Regions from separate parts of the Homo sapiens genome. Here all the other regions are linked to region 3. Evidence: fine-mapped expression QTL. A gene starts in region 3. Each other region holds a variant in brackets. All regions are shown on one strand. Distances are from middle to middle.

Region 1 (9,933 bases), 43 kb before region 3:
CATGGTCAGACACCTCTGAAATGTGGGTGAATAATCAGGCAGGCATCCCCGTGTGATTAAACACCAAGGGAGACTCTCTTCCTGAGTCTGTGACCAGTGCCGGAGTTTTGGGTTCATGGATAAAATGCATCTCCTTTGTGTCTACCGGAAAAGGAAAGGAACTGAAATTAAGAGAAGGGAGAGACTGAAGTGTGGCACCAAGATTGAAAGGAGAAAGAGGTTGAGGGATACTAAGAGAGGTTGGAGAAGGGAGTGAAAAAAGGCCACTTACCCGATTTAAAATTGGTGAGATGTTCCTTGGGTGGTCAATCTGAGGACCCAAGGTCGTAGGTGGATCTTTCTCATGGAGCAAAGAGCAGGAGGACAGGGGATTGATCTCCCAAGGGAGGTCCCCCGATCTGAGTCACGGTACCAAATTTCACTCACGTCCGTGTGAAGAGACCACCAAACAGGCTTTGTGTGAGCAATAAAGCTTTTTAACCACCTGGGTACAGGCAGGCTGAGTCCGAAAAGAGAGTCAACGAAGGGAGATGGGGTGGGGCCATTTTTTAAGATTTGGGTAGGTAAAGGAAAATTACAGTCAAAGGGGGGTTCTCTGGTGGGCAGGGGTGGGGATCACAAGGTGCTCAGTGGGGGAGCTTTTGAGCCAGGATGAGCCAGGAAAAGGAATTTCAGAAGGTAATGTCATCAGTTAAGGCAGGAAAAGGCCATTTTCACTTCTTTTGTCATTCTTCAGTTACTTCAGGCCATCTGGATGTATACGTGCAGGTCACAGGGGATATGATGGCTTAGCTTTGGCTCAGAGGCCTGACAGTCAGGAGTTTGAAACCAGCCTGGCCAACATGGTGCAACCTCATCTCTACTAAGAATACAAAAATTAACGGGTATAGTGGTGGGCACCTGTAATCCCAGCTACTCAGGAGGCTGAGGCAGGAGATCACTTGAGCCCAGGAGGCAGAGGTTACAGTGAGCTGAGATTGTGCCACTGCACTCCAGCCTGGGCAACAGAGAAAGACTCCCTCTCAAAAAAAAAAATTGGCCAGGGGTGCTGGCTCATGCCTGTAATCCCAGCGCTTTGGGAGGCCAAGGCAGGAGGATCAGTTGAAGCCAGGAGTTCGAGACCAGCCTAGCCAACATAGTGAAATTTCATCTCCAATAAAAATACAAAAATTAGCCAGACATGGTAATGCACACCTGTAATCCCAGCTACTTGGGTGGCTGAGGCACAAAAATTGCTTGAGCCTGAGAGGCAGAGGTTGCAGTGAGTGCCACTGCACCCCAGCCTGGGCAACAGAGTGAGACTCTGCCTAAAATAAAATAAAATAAAATGTATAAAAGCTGTAAACCAACCACCTTGGGCACCTGTTCTTAGGACTTTTAGGGGCTATGTCATGGGCCTTGGTCACTCATATTTGGCTCAGCATAAATCTCTTTAAATATTTTAGAGTTTAACTCTTTTTGTCAACACATCAGTTGACAGTGATCAGTAGTCTACCTAAAACTGCCTTTGTGAAAATTTTATCACTGAGAAAAATTATAATAGTAAGCAGAGTTAACACCCTCCACCTGCACCACCTTGCCTTTCCCTTGATTATTTGGGGGCTATTGGGCCAAGCTAACTTTGGAAGACATTTTAGGTTATCATTTAAATGATAACAGGCCTTGCCCTGAAACTCCTCTCCTCCCCAAAGCCTTTTGTAAAGCCAATGGGAGACCATCAGGCTTGGAGGAGAGGAGCTTGAGTCCTAAGATTGGCCTTTTGAGATGTCTTTTCAGGATTTTTGCATGTCAGACATCCATGGCTCCACCTGAACCCACCTGAATCCCCCACCAAACCCACCCCTGTGGCCCTGCCCAGAAGCAATTCTGCCTGCAGGAGGCAGAATTTCATCTCCACCCCAACCAATCAGCAGCAAGCACCTATTACCTGGCCACCCTCATCCCTTTGTGGAGTCCTAATTAGGGAAAGGGAACCAGGCTGGTGGAACCAAGAGAAAGCAAAAAGAGAAAGCAGATAAGCAACAAGTCTGTCTTTCTTCATGATCCAGGACACACAGCCCTCCTGCACAAGTAACTTACAACCTTTCCTGCACCCAGCTATCACCAGACACCTGTAAGTTAGCTCACTGCAACTTTGATGTTATCAGTACTACATAAAGCCCTCTTCAACAGAGAGCATAAACACTACCCTATAAAATCTCCAGCGAGTCTTTGTTTTTTGCAGTCAGTTTCTCTTCTGCTGGTAGCCCGTTATCTCTCTGGCAGTGTATTTTCCTACTTTGTCTAATAAATTTGGCTTCCTTTACTTACAACTGTCTTCACAAATTCTTTTACCCCACACCACCAGCTGTCGTTTTCCCATGACACCCCTAACATACAAGCTTTGGACAAGATGATTTGAATGCTAACTCCATCTCCCATGTGGCATGGCGAGCCTTGTGTCTATTAAACTCTTTCTCTACTACAATGCCATGGTGTTTCTTTACGCAGCAGGCAAGAAGAACCTCTCAGGTGGTTACACATCCTCCTGCTCTCCTTTCCAAGCTAGCTGCTGCTGAAGAAGAACTAGAGGCAAAGCTGAGTGCCCTGGTGGAGGGGAGGACAGCTGCTTGCACTCAGAAGCCTGCACAGATACAGAGAGGTCAGCCACCATGGGAGTAGGGATGAGAAATTCTGTCCTGCCAAAACCCCCACCAACCCAAAGACAAAAGGAAAAGTTTGGCTGCCACGAGGAAGGACAGATATGCTGAGAAATTCCATCCCCAAGACCCAGGAGCAAAAAACTTGCCTGAGACAGAGACTAGCCCTGAAGAAATGGAATACCATGCCTCTGTCAGAGGCAGGTGAACCAGAGCAACTCCATCTTGAATAGGAACTGGGTAAAATGAGGCTGAGACCTACTGGGTGCATTCTCAGATGGTTAAGGCATTCTAAGTCACAGGATGAAATAGAAGGTCGGCACAAGATACAGGTCATAAAGACCTTGCTGATGAAACAGGTTTTGTAGCAGGACAAGCCGCAGACACAACCCCTCAGACACTGAGTTAAAGAAGAAAGGGCTTTATTCAGCCAGGAGCTTCAGCAAGACTCACGTCTCCAACAACCGAGCTCTCTGAGTCAGCAATTCCTGTCCCTTTTAAGAGCTCACAATTCTAAGCGGGTCTGCATGAGAGGGTCGTGATTGATTGAGCAAGCAGAGGGTACGTGACTGGGGGCTGCATGCACCGGTAATTAGAATGGAACAGGACAGGGATTTTCACAGTGCTTTTCTATACAATAGCTGTAATCTATAGATAACATAACCAATTAGGTCAGGGGTCAATCTTTAACAACCAGGCCCAGTGTGTGGCACTGGGCTGTCTTTTAGAAATGAAATGTGGATTTCATTTCTGCCTTTTAGTTTTTACTTCTTCTTTCTTTGGAGGCAGAAATTGGGCATAAGACAATATGAAGGGTGGTCTCCTCCCTTAGTTTCAGTAAAGAAGCCGGCCAAAACCCACCAAAACCAAGATGGTGAAGAGAGTGACCTCTGGTCGTCCTCACTGCTACACTCCCACCAGCGCCATGACAGTTTACAAATGCCATGGCAACGTCAGGAAATTACGCTATATGGTCTAAAAAGAGGAGGCATGAATAATCCACCCCTTGTTTAGCATGTCATCAAGAAACAACCATAAAAATGGTCAACCAGCCACCCTCAGGGCTGCTTTGTCTATGGAAAGGCCATTATTTTATTTCTTTATTTTCCTAATAAACTTGCTTTCACTTTACGGACTCACCCTGAATTCTTATGCAAAATCCAAGAACCCTCTCTTGAAGGGTCTGGATTGGGACTCCTTTCCTGTAACACCTCTACCATGAGCCTCACACCAAGTAACCCACAAGAACAGTCCCAAGCTGTTGGCAGGGTGAGGAAAGCAAGAACATGGGAAGAGATCTTGCTTTGAAAGCCCCCAACTAAATGGGGGTTTCCGTAGCAGAGCAGCTAGTAACCCTGCTTTAATGGGAAATGAAGGACATGGTGTTTGCAGTGTCCCTTTCATGGGTTGCTTCTTTTGTTAGCAGCAGCGAATCCACACGGGTCTGCAGCAATTCAATTCTTGCCTCCTCGAAGGAAATAATTCCTCTGAGGGGCATAAGGCAGAGTGAGAGACTGAGGCAAGTTTTTGAGCAGGAGTCAGAGTTTATTAAAAAGTTTTAGAACAGGAACGAGGCCGGGCACGGGACAGCTCATGCCTATAATCCCAGCACTTTGGGAGGCTGAGATGGGCGGATTGCTTGAGGCCAGGAGTTCAAGACCAGCCTGGCCAACATGGCGAAACCCCGTCTCTACTAAAAATACGAAAATTTGCCAGGCGTGGTGTCGGGCGCCTGTAATCTTAGCTACTGGGGAGGCTAAGGCAGGAGAATCACTTGAACCCAGGAGGCAGAGGTTGCAGTGAGCTGAGATCACACCACTGCACTCCAGCCTGGATGACACAGCAAGACTCTGTCTCAAAAATAATTAATTAATATAAATTTTTAAAAAAAGTTTTAGAGGAAAGAAAGGAAGTAAAGTACACTTGGAAGAGGGCCAAGCAGGCAACTTGAGAGATTCAAGTGCACTGTTGAGCCCCTGACTTGGGGTTTTATACATTGGCATGGTTCCGGGGGTTGCGTCTCTTCTCCCTTGATTTTCCCTTGGGGTGGGAACAGTATATTTAC[T/G]GAAGTTGTGCACATGCTCGTTTGAGGCGTTCTTCCCCTACCAGCTGAGGGTTCCTGGGAAGACATAGATCTGTTGGCCAAGTGCAGTGGCTCACGCCTGTAATCCCAACACTTTGGGAGGCCAAGGCAGGAGGATTGCTTGAGGTCAGGAGTTCAAGACCAGCCTGGCTAACATGGTGAAACCCCCCTCTACTAAAAATATAAAAACTAGCTGGGGCCGGGCGCGGTGGCTCGCACCTGTAATCCCAACACTTGGGAGGCTGAGGCAGGCAGATCATGAGGTCAAGAGATCAAGACCATCCTGGCCAACATGGTGAAACTCCGTCTCTACTAAAAATAAAAAAAAAAAATTAGCTGGGCGTTGTGGTGTGTACCTGTAATCCCAGCTACTTGGGAGGCTGAGGCAGGAGAATCCCTTGAACCTGGGAGTTGGAGATTGCAGTGAGCCGAGATCACTCCACTGCACTCCAGCCTGGGCGACAGAGCAAGACTCCATCAAAAACAAAACAAAAAAGAAATACCACTTAAACTCTGCCATGTTGCCTCTTAGTGCACATGCTTGAGCCCACTCACCCAACTCCTGAGATCTTATCAGGAAGCTGCTTATCACCAGCCTCAGGTGTTTTCTGTCTATTGGGAAACCACCTTTCCCTGGCGCCAGCTACAACCAATTATTATTTCAGAAAGACAGTTTAACAACCACTTGACCACCACCTATTTGTCACTTGACATTACTGGGGAAGGGAATGGGGCATCCTCTCCTACCCTCCTCATGTCTGCCTAGATACCTACTCTAACATAACCAGCCACGGCAGGCCCAAGCTACTGGGGAGCGGGGCGAGCAAGAACATGGAAAGACACCCTGCTTTGAGAGCTACATGAGGGTCTCAGTAGCAGAGCGGCTAGCAAACCTGCTTTAAGGAGAAATGAAGGGAAGCTGGGTGTAGTGTTCACAGCGGGCTTTTCACAGGATACTTATTTACCTAATGGATGGCCTAATGCTTAGGGATCCCTAAAGGTCCCTTACTTGGGAAACTTGCTTATACTGGCAGACACCTCGTGGCTTTTGTGTGACCCACCACGTCCAGTTTATGCCTGCTGGATGGTCTCTCTGGCTCTGGGAGCCCAATCTTATGTTCCCCCAGGCGCCCCAGGGAAAACCCAGCCTCAGATTTCCCCTAGTTCTTCAGATGGAAGTTGAAAATTCAGGAAAGCACTTTTACCGGAAACAGGTCCTAATTCAGTCCGCAAGAGAGGGTTCTTGGATCTTGTGCAAGAAAGAATTTGGAAGGGCCAGGCGCAGTGGCTCACGCCTGTAATCCCAGCACATTGGGAGGCTGAGGCGGGCGGATCACGAGGTCAGGAGATCGAGACCATCCTGGCTAACACGGTGAAACCCCGTCTCTACTAAATACAAAAAATTAGCCGGGCGTGGTGACAGGCATGCCTGTAGACCCAGCTACTCGGGAGGCTGAGGCAGGAGAATGGCATGAACCCAGGAGGCGGAGCTTGCAGTGAGCTGAGATCATGCCACTGCACTCCAGCCTGGGTGACAGAGCGAGACTCCGTCAAAAAATAAAAAAAATAAAAAAATAAAAAAATTGGAGTGAGTCCACAGAGTGAAGTGAAAGCAAGTTTATTACAGAAGTGAAAAAACGTGAGAATGGCTGCTTCATAGACAGAGCAGCCCCGATGGCTGCTGGTTGGCCATTTTTGTTTCGTTTTGTTTTTTATTGTTTGTTCTTCTTTTTTTATTAGTTTGTTTGTTTTGTTGGTTGGCTATTTTCTAATGGTTATTTATTGATCGTATGCTAAAGAAGGGGTGGATTATTCATGAGTTTTCCAGAAGAGGGGTAGGAATTTCCCAGAACTGAGAATTCCTCCCCCTTTTAGACCATATAGGGTAACTTCTGGGCATTGCTATGGCATTTGCAAACAGTCACAGCACTGGTGGGAGTGCCATTTAGCAAGCTAATGTATTATAATTAGCATATTATGAGCAGTGAGGACAGCCAGAGGTCACTCTTGTTGCCATCTTGGTTTTGGCGAGTTTTGGCCGGCTTTTGTTGAGACGGAGTTGCTCTTTCGCCCAGGCTGGAGTGCAATGGCACAATCTCAGCTCACTGCAGCCTCCACCTCCCGGGTTCAAGTGATTCTCCTGCCTCAGCCTCCTGAGTAGCTGGGATTACAGGGGCCCGCCACCACGCCCGGCTAATTTTTTGTACTTTTAGTAGAGATAGGGTTTCACTATGTTGGCCAGGCTGGTCTCGAACTCCTGATCTTGTGATTCGCCCGCCTCAGCCTCCCAAAGTGCTGGGATTACAGATGTGAGCCAAAGCACGTGGCCATGGCTGGCATTTTTTTTATTGCATCCTGTTTTATCAGGGTCTTTGTAACCTACATCCTATCTCATCCTGTGACTAAGAACGCCTAACCTCTTGGGATGCAGCCCAGCAGGTCTCAGCCCATTCTACCCAGTCCCTACTCAAGATGGGGTCGCTCTGGTTCAAATGCTTCTGACACCATCACAATAGGAAACAAGTTCAAAGATTTCTTTTTATTATTATTATTTTATAGAGATGGAGTCTCACCGGCCGGGTGCAGTGGCTCACGCCTGTAATCCCAGCACTTTGGGAGGCCGAGGCGGGCGGATCACGAGGTCAGGAGATCGAGACCATTCTGGCCAACACAGTGAAACCCCGTCTCTACTGAAAATACAAAAAAATTAGCCAGGTGTGGTGGCGGGCGCCTGTGGTCCCAGCTACTCGGGAGGCTGAGGCAGGAGAATGGTGTGAACCCAGGAGGTGGAGCTTGCAGTGAGCTGAGGTCGTGCCACTGCACGCCAGCCTGGGCGACAGAGTGAGACTCCATCTCAAAAAAAAAAAAAAAAAGAGATGGAGTCTCACCATGTTGCCCAGGCTGGTCTTGAACTCCAGGGCTCAAGTGATCCTCCTGCCTTGGCCTCCCAAAGTGCTGGGATTAAAGAAATGAGCCACTGTGCCTGGCCCCAGAGATTTTTTACAGACAATAAATAAGGGCCTCCTAGGCAGGAAGGGCACCATGAGTCAGGAGGGCACCATGAGTTGGGAAAACACCATGAGTCAGGAGGGCACCATGAGTTAGGAGAACAGTCCTCCATCCCCAGGTCAAGTAGAGAAAGAGAGAATAGGAGTAGAGTCGAGTGGAGAGAGCATGTGGCAACTAGCAGTACATATATAGAGAGGGGAATACAGTGCCAGTCACTTGAAGTTCAAGGGCAGATGTCTAAATGCTCCACTTAAAGAAAGTGGTGGGGGCTGGGCGCGGTGGTTCATGCCCATAATCCCAGCAATTTGGGAGGCCAAGAGGCCGAGACGGGTGGATCACTTGAAGAGAAGAGTTTGAGACTTGAGGTCAGGAGTTCGAGGCCTGGGCAACAGGGCAAGACTCTCTCAAAGAAAGAAAGAAAGAAAGAACCTCGTGGAGGTAGAGAGTTCGAGACCTGGCCAGCCTGGTGAAACCCCATCTCTACTAAAAATATAAAAATTAGCCAGGCCTGGTCACTTGCGCCCATAGTCCCAGCTACTCAGGAGACTGAGGCAGGAGAATCGCTTGAACCTGGGAGGCAGAGGTTGTAGTGAGCTGAGATCGCACCATTGCACCCCAGCCTGGGCAACAGAGCGAGACTCGATCTCAAAATAAATAAATAAATAAATAAATAAATAAATAAATAAATAAAAATAAAGGAAGTGGCGGGAATGCAGGGAGCCCAGCCTGCTGGGTGAGAGAGGCGCCTTTAAGTTCATATTCTGGCTACCAGCTTGGCCCATGTGGATGTGGTGATCTACTTCTAAAGTCTAGCCAGCAACCTTTGGTCTGTTGTTCCTAATACCACTGACCTAGGCGTGAGACCTTGTGCATATTCCAACGGGTACCGTTCGAATGGTGTGGATATTAAAGGCTATCAGAGAAGTCTGGGCTACGTGCCATGCTGAGTAAGGCCTTGGATGAGCGTAAACAGTTGAAGCATATGAAGGCACCCAGTTGACCTGAAATCCCATGCACAGCCACCCACTCCACCGCCTAGGGTGGCGCCAAGGGAACAGATCAACTCTGGACCTAGAGCAGAGTGTAATGATGCTGTCACACACTGGCATGGCTTCCAGATTGGCTTGCACATGGCCAGAGTTTCTTTTAGGGATGGATGTGAGCAGAGAGCAAGCAGCGTACTAAGATCATAGCCTATGCAGGCAGGGAGTTCAGAAAGAAAAGTAAAAATGTCCTATGTCCATTTGTGTCTTAGGAGAGGTGAATCCATGGGCGTGACCTAGGTTTACCACCCAAGGAGTGAAGGTTTAGCGTAAGGGGTGAAGTCATCTCTAGTGTCAAGGCCCTGGGTTGGGGTGATGTCGTCTGAGATGATGGCATCTACAGCAGTGAGATTTTGGGGTGATGTTGTCTGGCATCTGGTATGTAGGATGGGGCTCCTTCTTTTTTTTTTTTTTTTTTTTGGAGGCAGGGTCTCCCTCTGTCACCCAGGCTGAAGTGCAGTGGCACTATCATGGTTCACTGTAGCCTCAACCTCCAGGGGTCAAGCAATCCTCCTGCCTCAGTCTCCAGAGTAGCTGGGACAACAGCCATTCGCCACCATGCCTGGCTAACTTTTTTTTTAATTTTTTTTGTAGAGGCAGGGGTCTCATTATGTTGCCCAGGCTGGTCTCAAACTCCTGGCCTAAAGCAATCCTCCCACCTTGGCCTCCCACAGTGCTGGTATTACAGGCGTGAGCCACCACGCCTGGCCTAGTGCATTTTTTGAAAGGTTAAAGTTAGAACCTACATTGTAGAGGCACAAAACCCAGTGTCCTTTTTTATATTTTTGTTATATGAATTTTGAATTTCCAGTTGAATCAAACTATGGAAAATATATTGTATACTAAATTTATCTGTTTATATTTATATTAAAATATTATATATGTATCATATGTATATTATATATGTATAATACATATAATGTATTACATATAATATACATATGTACATATAAGGTATACATATCTACATATATATTGTTACATATAATATACATATGTACATATAAGGTATACATATCTACATATATAATATATTGTATATAATATATACAATATATTTAACCATATATATTGTACCTCTAGGTACAAGGAGAAAATAAAAGGTGACTAGATAAATTATATATACATATATAATGTGTATAGAATATACATGTAGTAT
Region 2 (9,933 bases), 54 kb before region 3:
GAAACCCTGTTTGTTTTGTTTTTGTTTTTGTGAGACAGAGTCTCACTCTGTCACCCAGGCTGGAGTGCAGTGGCTTCATCTTGGCTCACTGCAACCTCAGTCTCCCAGGTTCAAGCCATTCTCCTGCCTCAGCCTCCTGAGTAGCTGGGATCAGAGGCCCATGCCACCATGCCAAGCTAATTTTGTATTTTTAGTAGAGGTGGGGTTTCACCATGTTGGTCAGGCTGGTCTAGAACTCCCGAGGTTTCCCCATGTTGGCCAGGTTAGTCTTATTCTCCTGACCTCAAATGATCCACCCGCCTCAGCCTCCCAAAGTGCTGGGATTACAGGAGTAAGCCCCCCAGCCAGGAAACCCTGTTTTGACAGCAAGGTTAATGGAGTTCTGTGGACTGGCTCCTGATGGGCAGGCCGAATAGCAGCAGGGCTGTGAATACCTCGGCAGTGGCTTTCATGGGTGAGTGGGACCATCTGATGGGCTGGGCAGGGCTCCCTGGATGGGTGGGGTTTCTTGGATGGCTGTGGCTTGCTGGCAGGTGGGGCTTCTTGGGTGGGCAGGGCTTCTTGAGTGGGTGTGGTTTCCTGGATGGGGCGTGGCTTCACGGGTGGGTGCAGTCTTACCACAGGGCCAGACCCCTAGGTAGGGGGAGGTAGAAATCCTCCTAGCCAGGTAGCTGGTACAGAAGCAGATGGTTGGTGGGGAAAGGAGTGGGGAAGGGACAGTTAATCTGGTAACTAAGAGCCTCTGGCCACAGTAACTCCAGAGTTGGACCACAGACACTATATTTGCTGCAAGGAGGGAGGATGGTACCAGAAGACACTGGAGTTGGGAGGACCAACCCCCAGGACCCTAACCCACTGTGCCCAGGTGGGAAACTGGTAACCTGGCCAAGGAGAGTGGTTTGGAGACCCCACTGAAACCGCCTTTGCAAAAATTATGACAGAGGCCGGGTGCAGTGGCTCACACCTGTAATCCCAGCACTTTGGGAGGCCAAGGTAGGTGGAGTGCTTGAGGTCAGGAGTTCGAGACCAGCCTGGCCAACATGGCAAAACCCGTCTCTACTAAAACTTAGCCGGACATGGTGGCAGGTGCCTGTAATCCCAGCTACTCAGGAGGCTGAGACAGGAGAATCACTCGAATCTGGGAGGTAGAGGTTGCAGTGAGCCGAGATCACCCCACTGTACTCCAGCCTGGGTGACAGAGTAGGACTCTGTCTTTAAAAAAAAAGAAAAAAGAAATTATGACAGTGAGTAAGACCCGACACAGGAAAATGATGGCAGTAAAATAATGTAATCTAGCTGACTTCTTCTTGCTTCTAGCCTCTAAACTGTCCTTGTTCATTCCTGGGCATAGGCTAGGTTAACTTGGGGAGGAATTTAATTTATGGTTTAAACTTAAAGCAAGGATGATAATAGCCCTTCCCAAAACTACCACCTGTTTGTTCTGGGACCAAACTGCCTTTGTAAAACTAATGACAACTCACAAGATTAGGATTATGGGGGTGTCTGAACTCTGCTAAAATGAAGCTAAAAGTTCAGCCATTGAGCTGGGTGCGGTGGCTCACGCCTGTAATCCCAGCACTTTCGAAGGCCGCGGGGGGAGGGGGGATGCGGATCATGAGGTCAGGAGTTCGAGACCAGCCTGGCCAACGTGGTGAAACCCCGTCTCTACTAAAAATACAAAAAAATTAGCCGGGTAGATGGTGAGCCTCTACCTCCCAGATTCAAGTGATTCTCCTGCCTCAGCCTCCCAAGTAGCTGGGACTACAGGCATGCACCACCAACCCCGGCTAATTTTTTTGTATTTTAGTAGAGACGGGGTTTCACCACGTTGGCCAGGCTGGTCTCAAACTCCTGACCTCATGATCTGCCTGCCTCGGCCTCCCAAAGTGCTGGGATTACAGGTGTGAATCACCGCACCCGGCCTCTTGAAAGTATTTTTACTAGGTATAGAATTCTAAGTTGACAGTTTTTTTTTTTTTCAGCACATGAATAAGATTCCATTGTCTTCCGGCTTCAAGGTTGCTATACAGAAGACTGAGCTTAATCTGTCAGGCCTTTAATTTTTTTTCTCTTGCTGCTTTAAGACTTTCTGTTTCGTTAATATTCTGAAGCTTCACCAGGATGTTTCTGGGCATGGATTTCTTTGTATTTATCATGCTTGGGATTCCTTGGCTTCTCAAAGCTGATAAGGTCTCTTCTCAGTTTGGGAAACTTGCCAGCCATTCTCTCTTCACATATTTTCTCTTCCCCCGTTAACTCTTTTCTCCAGGAACTGCAATTAAATAGAGGTTAACCCTTCCCTTTCTATTCTTCATGTGTTTTTAACTACTCTTCCGTATTTTCTGTCTCATAGCTGCTCATGAAGCATGTGGTGAGTTTCTTCTGTTCTCTCAGTTTACAGATTCTCTCTTCAGCTCTGTCTAATCTGCCACTAAAACCTCCTAATAAGTTTGTTTGTTTTTTTTTTTTTTTTTTTGAGATGGAGTCTCTCTCTGTCACCCAGGCTGGAGTGCAGTGGCACGATCTCGGCTCACTGCAACCTCCGCCTCCCGGGTTCACACCATTCTCCTGCCTCAGGCTCCTGAGTAGCTCGGACTACAGGCGCCTACCACTGCCACCACACCCAGCTAATTTTCCTTCGTACTTTCTTAGCAGAGATGGGGTTTCACTGTGTCAACCAGGATGGTCTTGATCTCCTGACCTCATGCTAATAAGTTTTTCAATAAACAAATCTACATTTTAATAAGTTATTGGATACACACATGTATTTATTACTGAAAATGGAAATAACATATCAAAATATCCTCCTTTCGCTATTCAAGTTTGTTGGGTTCTTTTGTTTGTTTTTTGAGACTGAGTCTCATTCTTTTGCCCAGGCTGGAGTGCAGTGGTGCCATCTCAGCTAACTGCAACCTCCACCTCCCAGGTTTAAGTGATTGTCCTGCCTCATCCTCCTGAGTAGCTGGGATTACAGGCATGCACCACCATGCCTGGCCAATTTTTGTATTTTTAGTAGAGACTAAAAATAGTTTCACCATGTTGGCCAGGCTGGTCTCAAACTCCTGACCTCAAGTGATCCGCCCGTCTTGGCCTCCAAAAGTGCTAAGATTGCAGGCATGAGCCACTGCACCCAGCCTCAATATTCAAGTTTTTTTAAAGGTAAAGACACATCTAGCTACATGTACCCTTCTCTAATGTTATGCTTTATCCAAACTACCCAATGTAAACTCATTTTATATATTCCTTCCACATAAATTTCTTTACTTCAAGTGTTTGATGTTAGGTCTGCTCTCATCTCATTGACTTCAGGATTCTAAACCATACATGTAATCCATGAGAACTTGTACTACCTGGAGCCAAATCAAAAACTAGAACTGAGATACCAAAGCATCAAATTACAAAGAGGGACAAAGGGAAAAAAAAAAATTTACGTAGTCAAAATCATATTTTGAGTTATTAAAAATTATTGGATTTTTGCTGGGCACAATGGCTCACGCCTGTAATCCCAGCACTTTGGGAGGCCGAGGTGGGCAGATCCTGAGGTCGGGAGTTTGAGACTAGCCTGGCTAACATGGTGAAACTCCATCTCTACTAAAAATACAAAATTAGCCAGGCGTGGTGGCATGTGCCTGTAATCCCAGCTGGTCAGGAGGCTGAGGCAGAAGAATCACTTGAACCTGGAAGGCAGAGGTTGCAGTGAGCCGGGATTGTACCACTGCACTCCAGCCTGCGTGGCAGAGTGAGACTCATCTCCAAACAATAACAATAAAAATAAAAATTATTGGATTTATGCTTTCACTTAGAGTAAAAAAGCCACAAGAGGCTGGGCATGGTGACTGACACCTGTAATCCCAGCATTTTGAGAAGCCAAGGCAGGAGGATCGTTTGAGGCCAGGAGCTCAAGACCAGCCTGGGCAGCCTAGCAAGGCCCCCATCTCTACAAAAAGTGCAATAAAATTAATACATAAAATAAATCCACAAGAGACTATCACTCCTACCATAAAAAGAAGAAAAAGCTGGGTAATCTATAGGTTTTGGCATTTCTTGAGCCCATCAGAAATTTAGGCTTCAAGGCAACCAGGTGAACTGAGGTCCAAAGAGTGACCGCACCCTCTCAGGAGAGACAGGACACATGAAAAGTTCCACCTTTGTCAGAGCACAGGAGGAAGAAGTGGCCACCAAAAAAGCAGGTGATAGGAAAACAACATTTTAATGAATTCTCAGAGGCCAGGAGTGGGCCAGCATGACAACTTAGAATCCCCCTGGGTGCATCAGGATCTAGCAGACCCCAAGTTCACTCGCAATCTCTTTTCCACCTCTTGGTGCTCATGAGAAAGATTGGAGGTACAATGAGACAAGAAAGAGGCTCCCTCAGTGGTTCTCAGGCATGAACCCCCTCCTACCTCCCAGAACCTTGTCTCACAAGAAGCAGAAGGACTTAAGCCTCAGGGGAAGGGGCAGGAATCCTTCCCATCCCCTGAGGACAGGCAAAGGTTCACTCCTGGTGGAAGTAAGGGTACAAGTAAGGCCATGTATTTCTGGGGGAGGGATAGGACCAGCCCCTCATTACATGGTGAGGGAGGGTTGAAGCAAAATCTGCCCCCTTGGGAGGGGCAGGAAATCTCCTGGCTAAATCACAAGCTTTGCACCTGTAAACCAAAAAGAAAATTCTAAGCCCCCCAACCTACTGAGCGGACTCCTTCTCGCCAAGGGCATTCCAAAGTAAACCTGCAAAACTAGTTCAGGCCATGATGGGAAGGAGTGTTGGACATGCCTCATTCTGCCCTCATCTCTTTGGAATTCAGGCACAACTGACCAGCATTAACATCAACACAGAGATCTTAAGGCTGACAAAACAGACTCTTTGTAGCAATAAGATACCAAATTCCAACCTGACTGAAGTACAGCATCACATGACAGATAGCAGGTCCTGAAAGAAACAGAAGTATTTTACCCCAAAATAAATTTTTCTTTGACATATTTTGAAACAGCCCTGCAAATCTGTCTCTTGTAGGGAAAATCTACACTGTGTAGAGAGTCCCCTTCCCTTTCCAGGTCTTCTCCTGATTCAGGAGAGATATAACTAAGAGTCTGGCACCTTTTTAAGTCTGATGAGAAACACTTACCATCTATTCTCTCTGAAGCCTGCTACCTGGAGGCTTCATCTGCATAACAAGAACCTTGGTCTTGGCTCATGCCTGTAATCCCAGCACTTTGGGAGGCCGAGGTGGGCAGATCACAAGGTCAGGAGATCCAGACCATCCTGGCTAACATGGAAAAACCCTGTCTCTACTAAAAATACAAAAAATTAGCCAGGTGTGGTGGTGTGCACCTGTAGTCCCAGCTACTCGGGAGGCTGAAGCAGGAGAATCACTTGAACCCGGGAGGTGGAGGTTGCGGTGAACCAAGATTGCGCCACTGTACTCCAGCCTGGGCAACAGAGCGAGACTCTGTCAAAAAAAAACAGGTGGTCTCCACAACCCCTTATCTTTTTAAAAAATGTTTATTTTATGTGCAAAGAGCTATCATGGTTTTTTGGGGTTTTTTTTGTTTGTTTGTTTGTTTTTGACGGAGTCTTGCTCTGTTGCCAGGCTGGAGTGCAGTGGCGCTATCTCAGCTCACTGCAAACTCCACCTCCCGGGTTCAAGTGATTCTCGTGCCTCAGCCTCCTGAGTAGCTGGGATTACAGGCATATGCCACCACGCCCAGCTAATTTTTGTATTTTTAGTAGAGACGAGGTTTCACCATGTTGGCCAGGATGGTCTCGATCTGCTGACCTTGTGATCTGCCCACCTTGGCCTCCCAAAGTGCTGGGATTTCAGGCGTGAGCCACCGTGCCCGGCCACTATCATGGTTTTTCACTGGGTACATGCGTTGGATAAACCTTTCAAGGAAGGTCAGTTAGTGCAACTTAATGAAACCGATATCTTTCCTGTACTGACGGAAACACTGGCAGTACATATTGAGGGCATATTTACAGATCAGACCATGCCGATTTGGGCCGATGTGACAAGAATGAAAACCCTGGCCGAATATTCACTGGTGGCTCTAGTACAGCTGCTGGTGACCCATCTTGCTCTCAGAAGTGCAACAAGGTAAAAGGCCACAACCTCTTATTTTTAAACCAGACACGCCTTTCTGTTGATTCCAGGTCTTTAGATCATAACTTTACTCTTTCGACCAATTTCCAATCAGAAAATCTTGGAATTTACCTATGATCTGGAAGTCCCCCTGCCCCACACCCCAAATTGTTCCA[T/C]GATTCCTGAGTGAACAAATGTACACTTTACACGTATTGATTGACGTATGCCTGTAACTTCCATCCCTCTAAAACGTATAAAATTGGCCGCAGGGGCGCACACCTGTAATTCCAGCAATTTGGGAGGCTGAGGTGGGCGGATCACTTGAGGTCAGTTTCACTTGAGTCCGTGTGAAGAGACCACCAGGTTTTGTGTGAGCAATAACGCTTTTAATCACCTGGGTGCAGGCGGGCTGAGTCCGAAAAGAGAGTCAGTGAAGGGAGAGAGGGGTGGTCAGTGAAGAGAGAGTCAGTGAAGGGAGAGCGGGGTTTTATAAGATTTGGGTAGGTAAAGGAAAATTACAGTCCAAGGGGGGTTGTTCTCTGGTGGGCAGGGGTGGGGGTCACAAGGTGCTCAGTGGGGGAGCTTTTGAGCCAGGATGAGCCAGGAAAAGGAATTTCAGAAGGTAATGTTATTAGTTAAGGCAGGAACAGGCCATTTTCACTTCTTTTGTCATTCTTCAGTTACCTCAGGCCATCTGGATTTATACGTGCAGGTCACAGGGGATATGATGGCTTAGCTTGGGCTCAGAGGCCTGATTTTCCTGTCTTCTTATATTAATAAGAAAAATAAAATGAAATGGGGTAAAGTGTTGGGGCGGCGAAAATTTTGGGGGGTGGTATGGAGAGATAATGGGTGATGTTTCTCAGGGCTGCTTCGAGCGGGATTAGGGGCGGCGTGGGAACCTAGAGTGGGAGAGATTAAGCTGAAGGAAGATTTTGTGGTAAGGGGTGATATCGTGGGGTTGCTAGAAGAAACATTTGTCGTGTAGAATTACTGGTGATGGCCTGGATATGGTTTTGTATGAATTGAAAAACTAAATGGAATAAGAGAAGGAGAAAAACAGGTATCAAAGGACTAAGAATTGGGAGGACCTAGGACATCTAATTAGAGTGCCTAAGGAGGTTCAGCACAGCCTTGCCAGCAAAGATTATTTATTTACTTTAAGAGTTAAGAGAGGCGGTTTGGGGATAGCACCAGGAGATACCAGCTGTGATGGCTTGGAGAAACAGTGTAAACTGGCAGTGTAAACAAGAGCAGGGCATTTATGAGTAGTTGAGAACAGTGAATAGGAGTATCACTAGACAGAAGATAGTAGGAATGACAAGTTTTTGGGGGCACAGTCTAAGTTGGTCTGGTGTCTGGAATAAGACTGGGGCCTAATAAAAAGGAGTGTCTATACAGGAGCTTAACTGGGCTGTACCTTGTAGCATTGTGAGGACAGGCCTGAATTCTGAGAAGGGCAAGTGGTAAAAGTATTGTCCAGTCCTTTTTAAGTTGGTGGCTGAGCTTGGTAAGGTGTGTTTTTAAAAGACCATTAGTTCACTGAATACTAAGAGCCTGAGAAACTGCTTGGGTGATTTGACTAATAAAGGCCAGTCCATTATAGGACTAGAGGTGGGAAGGCCAAACCGAGGAATTTTGTCTAAGAGAAGGGAAGAAATGACCGTGGTGGCCTTCTTAGACCCTGTGGGAAAGGCCTTTACCTATCCAGTGAAAGTGTCTACCTAGACCAAGAGGTATTTTAGTTTCCTGACTCGGGGCATGTTGAATAAAGCCAATTTGCCAGTCCTGGGTGGGGGCAAATCCCTGAGCTTGATGTGTAGGGAAGGGAGGGGGCCTGAATAATCCCTGAGTAGTAGAATAGCAGATGGAACACCGAGAAGTTATTTCCTTGAGGATAGATTTCCATGATGGAAAGGAAAGGAGAGGTTCTAAGAGGTGGGATAGTGGCTTGTTCTATAGCATAGCCTGCCTTTACTGGTGTGTGGTGATTAGGCCTGGTGGAACTGCCATCAATAAACCAAGTGTGATCAGGGTGAGGAACAGGAAAGAAGGAAATATGGGGAAATAGGGTGAATGTCAGGTGGATCAGAGAGACACAGTCATGGAGGTCAGGTGTGGTATCAGGAATAAGGTGGGAGGCCAGATTGAAGTCCGGGCCAGGAACAATGGTAATTGTGGGAGACTCAACAAAGAGTACAGCTGAAGGAGCCAGGGAGTAAAAAGTATATGTGTCAGGTGTGAGGAAGAAAATAGATTTTGGAAGTTATGAGAACTGTAGAGAGTGAGTTGAGCATAGTTTGTGATTTTAAGGGCCTCTAAAAGTATTAGGGTGGTGGCGGCCGCCGCACGCAGACTTGAGGGCTAGGCAAAACAGTAAGGTCAAGTTGTTTGGATAAAAAGGCTACAGGGCGCAGTGTGGGTTCTCGTGTAAGAATTCCAACTGCACAGCCCTGCACTTCGGCTGTGGGTAATGAAAAGGGTTGGGATGAGTCAGGGAGAGCTAGGGTGGGGGCAGTCTCTAAAGCTGTCTTCAAGGAATGGAAAGAGGAGTGGGGAAAGGATTTAGGATCTATGGGGTCAGCTAGGTTTCCTTTTGTGAGTTTATATAATGGTTTTGTTAGGATGGCAAAATCAGGTACCTAAAGTCAAAAGTATCTAACCATGACTAGGAAGGAAAGGGGTTGTTGTTTTGTAGAAGGTGCTGGGGTTTGAGAGATCAGTTGGAAACGATCAGCAGGGAGAGCATGTGTGTTTTTATGAGAATTATGCTGAGATAGGTAACAGATGAAGAAGAAATTTGGGTTCAACTGAAGGAATGGGGGCTGTCTGTGAAGCCTTGAGGCAGTACAGCCCGGGTAATTTGCTGAGCCTGATGGGTGTCAGTCAGGCCAAGTGAAAGCGAAGAGAGGCTGGGATGAAGGGTGCAAAGGAATAGTAAAGAAGGCATGTTTGAGATCCAGAACAGAATATTGGGTTGTGGAGGGAGGTATTGAGGATAGGAGAATATATGGGTTTGGCACCGTGGGGTGGATAGGCAAAATAATTTGGTTGACAAGGCGCAGATCCCAAACTAACCTGTAAGTTTTGTCTGGTTTTAGAACAGGTAAAATGGGGGAATTGTAAGGGAAGTTTATAGGCTTTAAAAGGCCATGCTGTAGCAGGCGAGTGATAACAGACTTTAATCCTTTTAAAGCGTGCTGTGGGATGGGATATTGGCATTGAGCGGGGTAAGGGTGATTAGGTTTTAATGGGATGGTAAGGGGTGCATGATCGGTCACCAAGGAGGGAGTAGAGGTATCTTATACTTGTGGGTTAAGGTGGGGGGATATGAGAGGAGGATGCAAAGGAGGCTTTGAACTGGGGAAAAGGGCAGCAATGAGGTGTGGCTGTAGTCCAGGAACAGTCAGGGAAGCAGATAATTTAGTTAAAATGTCTCAGCCTAATAAGGGAACTGGGCAGGTGGGGATAACTAAAAAAGAGTGCATAAAAGAATGTTGTATAAGTCGGCACCAGAGTTGGAGAGTTTTAAGAGGTTTAGAAGCCTGGCTGTCAATACTCACAACAGTTATGGAGGCAAGGGAAACAGGCCCTTGAAAAGAAGGTGATGTGGAGTGGGTAGCCTCCGAATTGAGTAAGGGGACGGACTTACCCTCCACTGTGAGACTTACCTAGAGCGTCTGTGATGGTCCTGTAGGCTTCCAAGGCGATCGGGCAGTGTCAGTCTTCAGCCACTAAGCTGAGAAGATCTGGGAAGGAGTCAGAGAGCCTTGGGCCAGAGTTCCAGGGGCTCTGGAAGTGGCTGCCAGGTGAGTTGAACAGTCCAATTTTCAGTGGGGTTCCACACAGATGG
Region 3 (9,933 bases):
TCCCACCACTATGGGCCCAAATGTCTTTTCCTCCTCCCGCTCCCCACTCTGCTGTATCAACGGAACAGCATCTCTCGCCAGCTGTCATTCACTACCCTCACCGCTAATTACTGCTCCTGCTAATCCTCTGCCTCAAAGCCTATCAAAGCTGTCCCACTCTCTGCCATCCCCACACACCCTGTCCTAGTCTTTGTCCTTGGCCAGTGTGGCTCCTGCAGCCCTGGCTGCCCGCCTGCTTCTGGTCTCTCGCTTCTGTCTCCCCACTGGCAGGCAGACCTTCCTCAAACACAAGTCTCATCACATCACACCGTTACTTCAATGTCAGTAAGCAACACTATTGTTTTAACTTGGGCTCCTGGCTGTCACTCCAGCCTCTCGACCAGTCACCAGCCTCTCCACCAGTCACCAACCTCCCAACCAATCACCAGCCTCCCCCATCCTCATCTTCTTCTTCTTCTTTTTTTTTTTTTTTTGGAGACAGTCTCACTCTGTCGCTCAGGCTGGAGTGCAGCAGCACAATCACTCTCGGCTCACTACAGCCTCCGCCTCCTGGGCTCAAGCAATTCTCCTGCCTCAGCCCCTTAATACTCTTAAAAATGACTGAGGACACCAAAGAGTTTCTGCTTATGTGGGTTACATCTATCGATACTTACTATATTCAAAATTAAAACGAAATGTTCCAAAACCTTCATTTTTAAATTACACAGTAAGATGAAACACATTACATGTTTTTATGAAAAATCGTTTTCCAGAAAAATTTTGGTGAGAAAAAGTGGCATTGTTTTTACATTGTCACCAATCTCTCCAAGTTCTGGCTTTGTAGAGGATAGCTTCTACACTGAATCTGTTGAGATATTTTGTTCTGCTTGAAAAATGAGGCAGGCCGGGCATGGTGGCTCACATCTGTAATGAATGCTAGCACTTTGGGAGGCCGAAGCAGTGGATTGCTTGAGCCCAGGAGTTCAAGACCAGGCTGGGGCAACATGGTGAAACCACCTTTCTACTAAAAATACAAAACTTAGCTGGCTGGCTGGAAGTGGTAGCTCATGCCTGTAATCCTAGCACTTTGGGAGGCCAAGGCAGGCAGATCACTTGAGGTCAGAAGTTTGAGACCAGCCTAGCCAACATGGCAAAACCCTGTCTCTGCTAAATACACAAAAATTAGCCGGGCGTGGTGGCAGGCACCTGTAATCCCAACTACTCGGGAGGCTGAGGTGGGAGAATCGTTTTGAACCCGGAAGATGGAGGTTACAGTGAGCCCAGATCACGCCACTATACTCCAGCCTGGGCAGAGTGAGACTCCATCTGAAAGAAAGAATGAAAGAAAGAAAGAAAAGAAAGAAAAAGAAAGAAAGGAAGGAAAAGAAAAGAAAAGAAAGGAAAAGAAAAGAAAAGGAAGGAAGGAAGAAAGTAGGTTAGCTGGGTGTGATGGCATACACCTGTAGTCCCAGCTAATCAGGAGGCTGAGGTGAGAGGATCACCTAAGCCTGGGGAAGTCAAGGCTGCAGTGATCTGTGGCCATGATCGTGCCACTGCACTCCAACCTGGGCAACAGAGTAAGACCCGTCTCAAAAAAAAAACAGAAAATCAGGCCTCATACTGATAAGGAGTTGGAAAGGCCTTTTCAGATTAACTGTAGATATTCATTTTGGATACTACCCAAAATTCAACAAGAGGTAGGTTCTTTTTTTTCTTTTCTTTATGCTACCTTGTCCAAGAAGGAAGTAGTTTCTCACAGGCTAGTTAGAACCTTCAATCTGAAATAGTATCAGTGAATATTTCTTTCTCTGCTGCATTAAAATCCACTGTTCTATCTTTCCCTTTCAATGGACCTGGATTATGTCTCACCCAATATCAAAATGTACTCATCAGCATCACTGCCTATCTCACCAAGAAAGTCTTTACTTAATGGGAAGCTGTCAAGCTCACATTAGTAGAAGTTTTCCAAAATTTTAATTTCCTTTTTTTTTTTTTGACAGGGTATCTCTCTGTTGCCCAGGTTGGAATGCAGTGGTGCCATCAAGACTCACTCCCACCTCCACCTCCCAGGCTCAAGCCATCCTCCCGCCTCAGCCTCCGGAGTTGCCGGGACTACAGGCATGTGCCACCACCCCCAGCTAATTTTTGTATTTTTTTGTACAGACAGGTTTCACCACGTTGCCCAGGTTGGTCTCAAATTCCTGGGCTCAAGCAATCCACCCACCTTCGCCTCCCAAAGTGTTGGGATTACAGGCATGAGCCACTGCGCCGGCCCAAAATTTTAATTTTCACTGGAAAGTTCTACTTCATCACTGGCAACAAATACCAACAGCTTACACTGAAGTAACAGGTTCTCAGTTCATTTTCAAGATGTCTGCCAAATACCCAAGTATGAACAATCACTGTTTGTCATTCATTCAAGTAAAAATAACATCCCATGGAAAAAAGCTGTTAGTTCAGCTCACTCAATCACATGCGTACTCTTGCTCAAGACAACTAACGCGGGCCTGTAATCCCAGCACTTTGAGAGGTCGAAGCAGGTGGATATGTGAGGTCAGGAGTTCAAGACCAGCTGGCCAACATGGTGAAACCCCATCTCTACTAAAAATACAAAAATTAGCCAGGCAGAGTGGCACGCACCTGTAATCCCAGCAACTCGGGAGGCTGAGGCAGGAGAATCACTTGAACCCAGGAGGTGGAGGTTGCAGTGAGCTGAGATCGCCCCACTGCACTCCAGCCTGGGTGACAGAGCAAGATTCTGTGTCAAAAAAAAATTTTTTTAAAAAAGACGTACAGTCAAGAGTCCAATCTAATCAAATTTAAATGTTTTACTCTTTCATCAAGAATCATTGATGGAAGTGGCTTTTTTTTTTTTTTTTTTTTTTGAGACAGAGTCTTGCTCTGTCGCCAGGCCGGAGTGCAGGGGTGTGATCTCAGCTCACTACAACCTGTGCCTCCTGGGTTCAAGCAATTCTCCTGTCTCAGCCTCCCAAGTAGCTGGGACTACAGGCGCGCACCACCATGCCTGGCTAACTTTTGTATTTTTAGTAGAGACAGGGTTTCACAATGTTGGCCAGGATGGTCTCAATCTCTCGATCTCGTGATCTGCCCGTCTCGGCCTCCCAAAGTGCTGGGATTTCAGGTGTGAGCCACTGGGCCCGGCTGGCTTTTTTTTTTTAACTCTTTGCTGTCACTGCCTTGATGTTTGGTAAAGCATCAGCGGTTTTACCCATCATTGCTATGGCACCAACAGTGGAAATGGCAATAATATGTAAACATTACCACAAAAACTAATTTTAGCCTCGGAGACCCCCTATGGTCTGTGGACATCCTGAGAAACAGGACTCTAACCAAACTAGAATATGCTAAAATCACACGTTATGTCCACAACTCCAAGCTGTTCATGTCACTCGTGTCTGGGGAATTCCCACTCATCTTTCCAAGTCTAGCCAAGTGTCACTTTCCAGTGGGTCCCTGACACACAACCTCCAGCACCGCTCCCCTCCTTTAGAGATCTGTTCCCTCAATGCTTACCCTCTTTATAACTTCCACTATATATACTCATTTACAGAATACATCCACTGCCATTCTGATCCCCCATGCCAAGCTCACTGTAACACCCTAAGGTCAATAACCACATCTTATAATCAATCCAATCAGCACCGCCCTATGAACTCTGAGATTTTAGGCAAAACAGTGACAAGAAACCTAATCATATATTGTCAGGGAAATAATCTGACGACCTCTCCAGTCAGATCAACTCTATATTATTATTTTTCTGAAGCAATCCTCCTAAAATATAATTTACAACCTGGGCAACAGAGCAAGACGCTGTCTCTACAAAAAATAATTTTAGACCAAGCACTGGCTCATGCCTGTAATCCCAGCACTTTGGGAGGTCGAGCTGGGTGGATTACCTAAAGTCGAGAGTTCCAAACCAGCCTAGCCAACATGGTGAAACCCCGTCTCTACTAAAAATACAAAAATTAGACGGGCGTGGTGGCAGGTGCCTGTAATCCCAGCTACTCGGGAGGCTGAGGCAGGAGAATTACTTGAACCCCAGAGGCGAAGGTTGCAGTGAGCCAAGATTGCGCCATTGCACTCCAGCCTGGGCGACAGGGCAAGACTCTGTCTCGAAATAACAATAATAATTTTTAAAAGTTAGGCGGGCGTGATGGCCTCCCCCTGGAGTCCCAGCTTCTCAAGAGGCTGAGGCGGGAGGCTCGGTTGAGCCCGGGAGGTGGAGGCTGCTACGACTGCATCAATGCACTCCAGCCAGGGCAGCAGAACAAGACCCCATCTCAATAACAAAACAAAAAAAAGCAAAAAAGCACGCTTTTCGTGCATGTATAAACAGTGCTTCTTCATACTCAAACTCTTAGCTCTATAGCTCTGATCTGCAGAGAATTTCAAAAACCAAGCCACAGCTAGTTATTTGGCCAACAGCAAATAGGCTGAACCACAGAAAACGGTCCAATGAGCCATTTCATAGGATTCGCCCTCATAAAAATTACAAGGGGGAGAAAGAAAAGCGACGCGGGTGGAGTGAAACGGCATGAAACGGGGACAAGATGAAGTTAAAAACGGCTCACCTGTCATTCCAATCGTCCCCTCGACGTCTTTCATCTCTCTCGCGGGAACGGTCGTAGTCGCTGCGCTCTCTTCTGAACTTGTCCCTGCGCCTTCGATCGTACTCGTCATCACTGTCACCCATGGCACGGTCTGAGGGGGCCTGGGGACCGGGGAGAGGCGGTAGGAGTGGTGCAAAAGGACGAGCGGAGGAAGGGACCGTCCCTCGCGGGCAGCTCGCCCGCTTCCCTCCCGCCAAGGCCAGCCCTCCGCGGCCCCCACCATCCTAGGCCTGAGAACGCGGCTCCAACACCTCCACTCGCCCCGAGTTTCTCCGCGCCCGCCCCCGTGGACCCCGGTTCCTCTCCCGCCCCAGCGGGGCCCCCCAGGCTCCTCCCCTCCCCCACCTTGGTGCGGCCGCGGCCGTTGGACTCGCGCTCGGACGGGCTAGATTTCAGGGCGACCTGGGTCGCGGGCGCGCGACGAGGACTTCGAGGAGGGCGAGACGGAGACGGAGCTCTTGAGTAGAGGGCCGAAGAGAGGCGAACAAAAGTGGGACAACCGGGGATGGGCAGTAGCGCGCGCAGCCCGCGCTGCGCCTGCGTCACCCACGCCTCCGAGGCACAAAGCTCCACCCTCGCGGCCGGAACTGGAACTAACAAACCGAGCGCGAAGGGCGGGGAGAGCAGGGCGTGATGGGAAAGGGGCGGGGATCTCGCAAGTCTCGCGCGGCTTTTCGAGACGATAACGGCTCGAGCGTTAGGAACTACGGGACCTCGGCTGGGCCAAGCGCGGCCTCGGGAGGCGAACAAGCCCTCTGGGCGCGAAGGGAGAGCGGAAGTCGAGGATCGCGCGACCCCAGATGTGTCGGGGTCCTAAGACGGTTCTCATCCAGCCATGTTCCCCCCACGGGCCTCCTGACCTCACCGGGGGTGATTTCGTCCCCTCCTCGGGCAGGGCGTGGGCTTGGGAAGCGCGGGCGCTTAGGGGATGGAAGGTGGAAGCAACCATTTTAAAGCATCGTATCCCACCATTTTCTGCTCCAAATATCCAGCCAAAATTGGGTGCCACAGTGCGCACTAAATGCAAAGTCCGCCGTTCCTGCTTTTCCTCGACAAAGACGCCCCGTCTTTAAGTAAAATTGGCAGATCTCAGTCTTAACCCCGCTCAGTATTTGGATGAAATAGGCTGTAAGTTAACGCCCTAAACAGAGTATGGACCGCCCAGATTCAATGGATTACCACCCCCGGGAGTAACACCAAGGCCCCTCTCAGTGAATTGAGTGTGAGACTTAATAGGAAGACCAGCTGAGATGGCTCACGCCTGCAATCCCAGCGCTTTGGGAGGCCGACGTGGGAGAATCACTTGAGCCCAGGAGTTGGAGACCTGCCTGGGCAACATAGCAAGGCCCCTTTACAGAATATTTAGGGCCAGGCACATTGGCTCACACCTGTGATCCCAGCACTTGGGAAGGTCGAGGAGGGAGGACTTAAGCCCAAGAGTTCAGGACTAGCCTGGGCAACATAGCAAGATCCCATCTACACACAAAAAAATAATAACTGGGCTTGGTGGGATGCCCCTGTGGTCCTAGCTACTGGGGAGGCTAAGCCAGGAGGACTGTTTGAGCCCAGGAGTTCAGGGCTGCAGTGAGCCTTGATTGCACCACTGCACTCTAGCCTGGGGAACAGAGTGAGGCCCTGTCTCAAAATAGATACATAGAGGAAATCTTGCCTCCTCCCTGAGGCGTGCTTGCTCCCAGCACTGAGAGGAGGGTAGTGACGGATTACAAGAGTTGTCAAAAAAAACTGGACCTGAGTCAAAAAGACCCAGGTTCCACCATTTAAGAACCATGCAATCTGGGGGAGTCACCTCTCAGCTCTGACATCCTCACATGTAAAAATGCAGACAGTGGCCAAGGGCGGTGGCTCACGCCTGTAATCCCAGCACTTTGGTTGGGTGAAGCGGGCAGATCACTTGAGGTCAGGAGTTCAAGACCACCCTGACCAAGGTGGTGAAACCCCGTCTCTACTAAAAATACAAAATTAGCCAGACGTGGTGGCGGGCGCCTGTAATCCCAGCTACTCAAGAGGCTGAGGCAAGAGAATCACTTGAACCTGGGAGGCAGAGGTTGCAGTGAGCCGAGATGGCACCACTGCATTCCAGCCTGGGTGACAGAGCCAGACTCCGTCTCAAAAAAAAAAGAAAAAAAATGCAGGCAGTAACAATGACTGGGCCTGTAATGGGCTACTGGGAGAATCAGATGAGACAACAGACTTGGAAGTGTTTTGTAAACTCGAGGGATTATTATTTCTTGATTGGAGAAAGAGAAGACAGCATTTGGTGACAAAGTCATACAGGTGGATGTCAGGGAGAGTGATCAATCAAAGGATGGGAACTGGAACTGAGAACCCAGCAGGTACTTCTAGGAAGACTCAGCAGTCAGTGGTGACGGTGGCTGAGAGCTCCTGGATGCGCCAGGCGCTGCAGGCCTTGCACAAGATGTGCCCATCCAGCGGGTAGCAGCCCTGACACTCGCCCTCAGAGGAGAGCAGCAGCCCACACTCCTGTTGAAAAAGAAGCAACAATTGGCCGGGCGCGATGGCTCACGCCTGTAATCCCAGCACTTTGAGAAGCCGAGGCAGGAGGATCACAAGGTCAGGAGTTCAAGACCAGCCTGGCCAATATGGTGAAACCCTGTCTCTACTAAAAATACAAAAATTAGCCAGGCATGGTGGCCAGCACCTGTAATCCCAGCTACTCAGGAGGCTGAGGCAGGAGAATCACTTGAACCCGGGAGGTGGAGGTTGCAGTGAGCCAAGATTGTGCCACTGCACTCCAGCCTGGGCAACAGAGCAAGACTCCGTCTCAAAAAAAAAAAAAAAAGAAAGAAGCAACAGGTTTCCATCAACCCCAGACCTCTGTGTTCCCCCTCATGCTCTACCCAGCACCCTAGACACTGCCAGCCCCTTGCACGTGCTGGGGGCCCCTGACCTCGCACTTGTAACAGCCAATGTGAAAACTTCGATCCAGAGCAACAATTCTCACAGTCTCCTCCTGACCTGGCTCAGGCATTATGGCCCCACCGCACACTGAGCATCTTGGGGCAAACTTCCTGCAGGGGAAGAGAACCAAGAAGGCCATCAAGCCTTGGGGTTGCAGGGCACCAACAATGGAACCCAGAGAAGGTGGGGCACAGGAGGGAATCAGAGAGGCCAGAGGTATGGCCTTAGGTCTTGGGGAAGGGACGATGTCAAAGAGAATGAGAGAGGCTAGGTGCAGTGGCTCTAGCCTGCAATCCCCCGACTTTGGGAGGCCAAGGCAGGAGGATCACTTGAGGCCAGGCGTTCAAGACCAGCCTAGGCAACACAGCAAGACGCTGTCTTTATTAAAATACAAAGAAGAAGACTGGGTGCAGTGGCTTACGCCTGCTATCCCTGCACTTTGGGCGGCCGAGGCAGGTGGATCGCTTGAGCTCAGGAGTTTGAGACCAGCCTGGCCAACATGATGAAAGCCTGTCTCTACTAAAAATACAAAAAAAAAAAAAAAAAAAAAAACTAGCCAGGCGTGGTGGCATGCGCCCGTAATCCCAGCTACTGGGGAGGTTGAGGCAGGCAAATCACTTGAACCCAGGTGGTGGAGGTTGCAGTGAGCTGAGATCGTGCCACTGCACTCCAGCCTGGGTGACAGAGTGAGACTCCATCTCAAAAAAAAAAAAAAAAAAACGAAGAAAACTAGCCAGGCATGGTGGCGTGTGCACCCGTAGTCCCAGCTACTCAGGAGGCTGAGGTAGGAGGATCACTTGAGCCCAGGAGTTGGAGGCTGCAGTGAGCTATGATCATGCCATTGCACTCCTGCCTGGGCAACAGAGTGAAACTCCGTCTCTAAAAAATAACAATAACAAAGAACGAAGGAGGGCCAGGGTTGGAAACAGGAAGAGACAGTCCTGGGGCATGAAGAGATGAGAGAGACAGGAAAGGTCAGACATTGTGAGACAAGGTGGAGGCCAGGCCTGACCTGTGAAAGTCCTCAATGCAGTGGATCTGGCTCGTAGCATCCACTGTGAAGGGGATGCCGTCGAGGCCGCGGTGACACACCACGCAGGTGAAGCAGCCAGGGTGGTAGGCCTTCCCCATAGCCCGCAGGATCCGGTCCAGGATGGGCTGGGAGCACGTGGCACATTTCTCCAGGGTGGCCTGTTGGGAAGGAAGGCAGGAAGATCTGGGAGCGGGCGGGAGCCATGGCAGCTCAACAGGAACCCCAGCAACCCAGCCATCTAATTTCTGCAGCCTCCTGCATGCAGCCTCCTGCATGTGATTCGGTGAAAGGCAGACTTGAGCAGATCTGAGTTCAGGTCCCAGCACTATACACGGTATTTAAACACTATGAGAAAAACAGGAATCAGGCTGGGTGCAGTGGCTCACGCCTGTAATGCCAGCACTTTGGGAGGCCAGAGTGGGCGGACTGCTTGAGGCCAGGAGTTTCAAAACAGCCTGGCCAACATGGCGAAACCCTGTCTCTACTAAAAATACAAAAATTAGCTGGGTGTGGTGGTGGGCACCTGTAATCCCAACTGCTCGGGAGCCTGAGGCATGAGAATCGCTTGAACCAGGGCAGGCTGAGGTTGCAGTGAGCAGAGATCACCCCACTGCACTCCAGTCTGCGCAACAGAGCGAGACTGTCTCAAAAAAAAACAAAAAACAAAACCAGGAATCAGTAGTAATACCTGCCTCACAGGGGTGTCATGGGAATCTAACACATTCTCTTTAACTGTAAGATGCTCCACACTTGTAAGAGCTGCGTCCTTCCCTTCAGCCACCAGTGTTAAGCTACTTGCTTGATACTTGCAGAATTCCGCCCTGTTTGTACATCACTTTCAGTCGCCTGGCTTTTAGCACCGTTCCTCCTTTGGTCTTGGACGCTCTAGTTACCACCTTGGATGGAAGCCCCCTGCATCCAGCCACTGACTCCCTCCTCCCAGCCCCAGCCACTCACCACGTAGCAGCCCTCGCAATATGCCCTCCTCTCCACGGCGTAGAAATGCTGGCCGCGAAGCTGGGCCCGGCATGTAGAACATACAAAGCAGCCCACGTGAAAGACGCGATCAAGGGCCACAACCCCAGCCCCATCCCCAACCACATCTTCTCCGCAGCCACCACACTGGCCTGAGGACAGGGAGAAACAGCATCAGTCTTCACAGACCCAGGAAGCCACTGTCCCCTCTGTCTCCCAGCCTCCCTTCCCACGTCCCACCCACCCCACAGCCTCAGCTCACCAAAGTACTCCCCGCTGGGCGGGTGGTTCATGTCGTGAACCAGCTTCTTCGTCAGCCTATCCAGCTCATCCTCTGGAGGCTGGCTCAGGGGCACCTGGAAGGTGGGAATCGGG

Which allele goes with the higher level. Alleles are on the strand shown, and positions count from the first base shown. SD is a standard deviation of normalised expression in the study named. Not every link is listed here.
In carriers of allele C in region 2, the expression in esophagus mucosa of the gene that starts at base 5,181 in region 3 tends to be higher than with T alone (small effect, 0.14 SD a copy in GTEx).

Evidence for each region. PIP is the estimated chance that this variant, and not a neighbour inherited with it, causes the effect. A credible set is the group of variants that fine-mapping cannot tell apart.
Region 1: its variant is the best candidate, but not a certain one, in a credible set for the expression of SRRT in sun-exposed skin (GTEx, PIP 0.50).
Region 2: its variant is the best candidate, but not a certain one, in a credible set for the expression of SRRT in esophagus mucosa (GTEx, PIP 0.61).

The regions. Positions count from the first base shown.
Region 1 is chr7:100,913,155-100,923,087 of GRCh38, reverse strand. No RefSeq gene overlaps it. Among named protein-coding and RNA genes, the nearest start is that of ACHE, 22 kb to the right of the region's middle. RefSeq lists an enhancer at 6,195-6,304. The variant T/G (reference allele first, on the strand shown) is at 4,705.
Region 2 is chr7:100,924,509-100,934,441 of GRCh38, reverse strand. It overlaps the pseudogene RPS29P15. Among named protein-coding and RNA genes, the nearest start is that of MUC3A, 20 kb to the left of the region's middle. RefSeq lists enhancers at 530-1,031, 5,047-6,003, 6,004-6,961. The variant T/C (reference allele first, on the strand shown) is at 6,257.
Region 3 is chr7:100,870,351-100,880,283 of GRCh38, reverse strand. SRRT (serrate, RNA effector molecule) reads right to left here and starts at 5,181. Exons shown (of 20, transcript NM_015908.6): 1 at 4,956-5,181; 2 at 4,572-4,711. The coding sequence starts at 4,693. It overlaps TRIP6 (thyroid hormone receptor interactor 6), which reads right to left. Exons shown (of 9, transcript NM_003302.3): 5 at 9,821-9,914; 6 at 9,541-9,710; 7 at 8,563-8,741; 8 at 7,540-7,660; 9 at 6,830-7,112. The coding sequence ends at 6,981. RefSeq lists a silencer at 4,700-4,929 and enhancers at 5,070-5,129, 5,340-5,389, 4,966-5,631, 5,632-6,296.